Linked DNA regions of Homo sapiens: region 1 is linked to region 2. The links come from fine-mapping of genetic effects on gene expression. Tissue or cell type: prefrontal cortex. Region 2 holds a variant in brackets; the other region holds the start of a gene. All regions are shown on one strand. Distances are from middle to middle.

Region 1 (2,685 bases), 70 kb after region 2:
AATTACCAGTGTGTGCTTATCAAATGGCAATTTAATACAAACATTCATTACCAGTGATGCTCCTTGGTGAGGTTGTGGTGAAACACATCACCTCACTGTCAGAGGGAACAGAAACCCTTGCGGAAAACAATTTGGAACCAATTTAGAAACAATACAATTTGAAAAAATGTTATGTTCTTGTTCCAGTTATATGGCTCCTAGGAATTTATGGTAAGGATATAATCCCAAAAAAGAAAAAAGCCGTATGAATCCTAATAAAGATGTTCGTTACAGCATTATTTATAGAAGCAAAAAGGTAACCAAATACTATCTTTTTGTAGGCATTTGGTTTAAGTATTTCAGTAGGGGATTGAAATTGGGAAGACTATGTAGCAACATGGAAAATGCTTTAGATTTAGATTTTGTAGATCTCAAGGGAGCAGAACACACAATTATGTGTATGATATGGTTATCAGTGGGTGAAATTTACACACGCAAATGGACAGGCTTGGAAAACAATGGAGCCACAGAGCAGCCACTGTGGTAGGATTAGTTTTTTTGTGTTGTGTTGCACTTGTTGCTTATGTCGCACACGCATGTACATGGTCTATGCAGTACACATATATGCATGTATGTATGAGAGTCAGATATCCGAGTACATATCATTTACTTTTTCCAAACATTTGCCCCTCTACCTCCAGGATCTGCCCACCCCATCAGTGTAACTTAGTAATTAAATCCCAGATGCAGCAGGCTCGTTCTGGTTACCTAGCAGCATGCCGGTGGGCAGCTGAGCCGAGGGGTCTTTCATCCAGTCGTCATTGGCCAGTTCTATCACAGCGTCCACAGGCGTGATTTCAGTGCAGATTAAATCCCTCACTCTCTCCTCATCTTTGGCATCCAGGGCAGACTTTAATCTCTTCACTAAATCTGAGTTGAGTGGGTAGTCGGGAAGGTAATCCGAGTTGGACATTGTTACGTCGTTTCTGCAGTGACCAGCCCTTCTTTTCTTCCTCTAAAGCGACTCCAAAGTCAGCAGCTGTCCGTGAGAGTGGCGTGGGGGCTGCTATAAATAGCAGCACCCTGGCTCCTCTTACAGTCCCTGCGGAGGGCCACCTGCCAGCAGGGAGGTGTGAAGTAATCTTTCCAGAGGCCTCAGCAAAGGATTATTCTAGAGATGGGGGCAGCAGACATGTTTGTGAGTGGTGCAAGAAGGAGAGACAATATTTTCAAAGACAGCTTTCATGGGTATTGTTGAATAATATCTTCTTTTATCAAAAGTGAGGCTCTCTCCTGAAACTTTGAAAACCTCTTCCTGGCACTGGGCTTGGACCTCTATTCTGTGGAAAGGAACATTTTCTAATATTCTACCCCTTGTGTTCCTTCACTTCCTCTAAAAGGAGCGTCTGGTCACCTGCAAATTGGACATGCCTCAAACGCATAGAATGGAATGGAATCTTTGGTTTCCAAATGCAGAGAAGGACTGGCTGATCTCAGGAAGACGGAAGCATCACAGAAAAACAAAAAAAAGTAACCTAAATATTACCTGTGACCTCCCTATGCCTCAAGGCTGGTAAACTTTGCTCAAAGCCTATAATTCCATGACTTGTGGAAGTGTGGAGCCCTCAGGGGGATTTCTGTGCACTCCTAGGGGCAAAGGTGGGGCTTTCTCTCCTTGACCTGTGTCTTCAGTGTGCTTGGGTCTCTGTGTGCCAACCTGTGCATAAGCACAGCTGTGCCTGAAGCTTCTCTGCTGATGCCAAGTGTGCTGTGGTCTCTGAGGGCCCAGGGCGGGCCGTGGAGCTTACAGGGCCTCCTTCGCCTTGCCTTCTATCTCGCCATCTTTTCCATTCCTTACTTTCTTTCTTCTCCCCTGTGCTTAATTTTATGTCTCAATTTGGCTAGGACCCCAGTGCCCAGAGACTTGGCCCAACACTAGTCTAGATGTTTCTATGAAGGTGTTTTTGGGATCAGATTAGAATTTCTTGAACCGGCAGACTTGGAGTGAAGCCGATGGCTCTCCCTAATGTGTGTGGGCCTCCATCAATCAGTTGAACGTCTGAATAGAACAAAAGACTGACTTTCCCTGAGCAAGAAGGAATTCTGGCGGCAGACAGCCTTTGGTCTCAACCTCAGGTCTTCCCTGGGTCTCCAGCCTATCAGCCCACCCTGCTGATGATGGATTTACCAAGTCTGCACAATAGTATGAGCCAATTCTTGAAGAGAAATTCTCTCTCTCTCCCTACATAACTGTTGGTTCTGTTCCTCTGGAGAACACTGACTAATACACCCTCTTCCTCCTTTCAGCTCATTTGTGTGATTTTCCAGCTTCTGTTCCATCTGCACTTGAGGTGCCAGGCACTGTAGTTCCTGCCCAACATCCATTCTCCTTCCACCTGCCCAACACAGCCTGGCTTTCTTGGTGGGGGCACTGTGCCCAGCCCCTGGGGATGAGTCATGTTGATTTAGGTCAGTAGTGTCAGTCCCAGTCTCCTTTGCCTGCACTCAATGTCCAGTCTCCCTTGCAACCCAGTTCTGGCTGCTGGGGTGAGTCTGGGAAGTTATGTGCTTTCCTGATCAAGAGGGACAGAAGTGACTGGCAACACCCTTTCCTGTTCTTGTTTCCTTGAACATGGACATGATATCTGGAGGTGCAGCAGCCACATCACAGCTGGGAGGCAACAGATATGAAATGAAGGATTAACA
Region 2 (2,685 bases):
GTGAGGGGACGGTCCCAAGGCTCAGGGGCAGCATGAGGGCTGCTAACACACTGGAAAAATACATATACAGTAGGTCCTTAAATAATGTTTTGTTTAATGTCATTTTATTATAACACCGATAAGAAACAAAACTGATTCGGCAGGGCATGGTGACTCATGCCTGTAATCCCAGCACTTTGGGAGGCCGAGGCGGGCAGATCACCTGAGATCGGGAGTTTGAGACCAGCCTGACGAACATGGAGAAACCCCGTCTCTACTAAAAATAAAAAATTAGCCGGGCGTGCTGGCACATGCCTGTTATCCCAGCTACCAGGAAGGCTGAAGCAGGAGAATTGCTTGAACCTGGGAGGCGGAGGTTGCGGTGAGCCAAGATTGCGCCAGTCTCAAAACAAACAAACAAACAAACAAAAAAACAAAAAAGAAACAAGACTGATTCCTGGGCAAGGCCACTGTCTGTATGGGTTTTCTCTGGGTGCTCCAGTTCCCACCCACATCCCAAAGCTGAGCAAGTGAGGTGAGCTGTCGTGTCTGAATTGTCCCAGTGTTGTGTGTGGGTGGGTGGGTGTGGGGGTGTGTGAGCACCCTGCGATGGAATAGCACCCCGTCCAGGCCTGGTTCCTGCCCTGCACACTGAGTTGCTGGGGTGGACTCTGGCCACGCACGACCCTGAACTAGAATAAGCACATTAGAATATGAATGAATGAATGAATGAATGAATACAAATTATTGTAAAGTAAAAATTCATAAGGCATACAATAATCATCCAAATGCATGACAATAAATGATGCGGTATGAGAGGGCCTAGCAAGCCTGCCACATTGGTGACTGTTCTGAACTTCGTGGTGGTAGGAGGTGCTCCTGACAAGGTTCGTTTTGCAAACATTTATTCCTTGATCTAACCCACCAGCAGGACAACCACCATCACATACTGATTCACCAAAAATTGGGTAAATAATTATCTTACTTGTTATTAATCTCTTTTAAAGGTATGTGTAGCTTGCCTTTATTTCAATCTTTACTATTAGAATTGTATTGGTCTTTATTTAGAAGTGTGGTGATCTTTTTGTGACCAGAAATATGCTGTAGGAACATCATTCTTGTTTATATCAATTAACCTTGGGAAAACTGGCATTGTTATACCTCATTTAGCTTAAAGCTGGTTCCCTAGAACCTATCGAAGACCTTAAGTGAGGACTCACTGTACCTTTTGGCTTAACTGTTGTTGAAAGGTACTTTCCCAGACCAAGTGCTGTGATAGTCACGATTTCACTGGATTTTCACAAGCGACCCTGAGAGGCAGAAAGGGCTTTTGTTGCCAATTCCATTTCGAGGTGAACCTGAAGCTTGGCAAGGTCTGTGCTTCACCCGGTCCCACGGAGAGCAAGTGGGAAGGGAACTCCCATCACCTCCATCTGCATCAGGGCACTCTCCAACACACGGCCTCCATGGAAGGTCAGCGAGGAGAACAACAGTATTGGTTGCAGCGTTCTGCGTTTCAGTGCAAAACACC[C/T]TGTGGCTCCAAAAGTAGGTAATTCTGCAGGGGCTTTGGCAAGGGTAACAGGGGGATGAGGTCAAAGCACCTTTTGCCAAACAGTCTGCGAAGAGCACAGCGGCAAAGATGCTGCAGGCAGCGTGGGGTGAGGGCCAAGGCAAAGAGGGACTGGTAGAACGGCTTGTGCATCTGGAAGGGAAGGCAGGTGGATTAGAAATCTGGGCACGTGGAACCAACATACGTTTTCTTCTTAGCCAGACCACTGATGGTACAAGCGGGCTTTTCTATGGCTAACTGATCCCAGATAAGCGCACTGGAGGGAGACGCACCATCTTGTGGGAACCACCCTCTACCCCAGGGGCTTGTGTGCTCTCCCAAAGCACAGTTCCTGCCGAGTGAGAGGGGATTCTGACTGGGGTGACTTCAGATGCTCCAGGTGGTCTCCCCGAATTCCGTTTTGCTCCATCCTCTTTGCACAGCAGCCCTACAGCTCCGGGGTGGCCCTGTTCATCTCCCCAAGTCATGACCAGCTCTTCCCTTCTGCCAGGGAGGGGCTCAGGAGCGAGTGCATGGCATTGGTCTGGTGGTCAGTCATGCACACATGACTCAAGTCAGTGAAACAGAAAAAACACACACAACTCTTCTCACTCTCTTTTTTTTTTTTTGAGATGGAGTCTAGCTCTGTCACCCAGGCTGGAGTGCAGTGGCGTGATCCCAGCTTATTGCACTCTCTGCCTCCTGGGCTCAAGCGATTCTCCTGCCTTAGCCTCCTGAGTAACTGGCATTACAGGCGCTTGCCACCATGCTTGGGTAATTTCTGTATTTTCAGTAAAGACAAGCTTTCACCATGTTGGCCAGTCTGGTCTTGAACTCCTGACCTCAAGCGATCTGCCTGCCTTGGCCTCTCAAAGTGCTAGGATTACAGGCATGAGCCACCGCACCTGGCCTGTTCTCACTCTCTTTTAATGGACAGTCACCTGTGGACTTTGTCGTGGATAGATGTAATCCCCATAGCTTCCTTGGTCGTATCTTGAGCTGCTGGAGCATGAAGCTGACTCACAGGGCCGGATTAGTATGTCCTGACGTGGAGCTAGGCCCGTGGATTCAGGCGGCTCTGGCCTTTCTTTGGACACTGGTTAAGGAACCCTCGCGCTTTTCAGGCCAGCACGGGGCTCTGAGCTCCTTGAGGCCAT

Alleles and levels. Alleles are on the strand shown, and positions count from the first base shown. SD is a standard deviation of normalised expression in the study named.
For the expression in prefrontal cortex of the gene that starts at base 1,013 in region 1, T is the high allele of the variant in region 2 and C is the other (moderate effect, 0.49 SD a copy in BrainSeq).

What was found. PIP is the estimated chance that this variant, and not a neighbour inherited with it, causes the effect.
Region 1: ASB18 starts here. The variant in region 2 is the best candidate, but not a certain one, in a credible set for the expression of ASB18 in prefrontal cortex (BrainSeq, PIP 0.63).

The regions. Positions count from the first base shown.
Region 1 is chr2:236,263,394-236,266,078 of GRCh38, forward strand. It overlaps ASB18 (ankyrin repeat and SOCS box containing 18), which reads right to left and starts at 1,013. Exons shown (of 6, transcript NM_212556.4): 1 at 748-1,013. The coding sequence starts at 952.
Region 2 is chr2:236,193,377-236,196,061 of GRCh38, forward strand. ASB18 (ankyrin repeat and SOCS box containing 18) reads right to left here. Exons shown (of 6, transcript NM_212556.4): 6 at 83-1,681. The coding sequence ends at 1,496. The region is part of intron 1 of GBX2-AS1 (GBX2 and ASB18 antisense RNA 1); the gene reads left to right. Among named protein-coding and RNA genes, the nearest start is that of GBX2, 26 kb to the left of the region's middle. The variant C/T (reference allele first, on the strand shown) is at 1,511.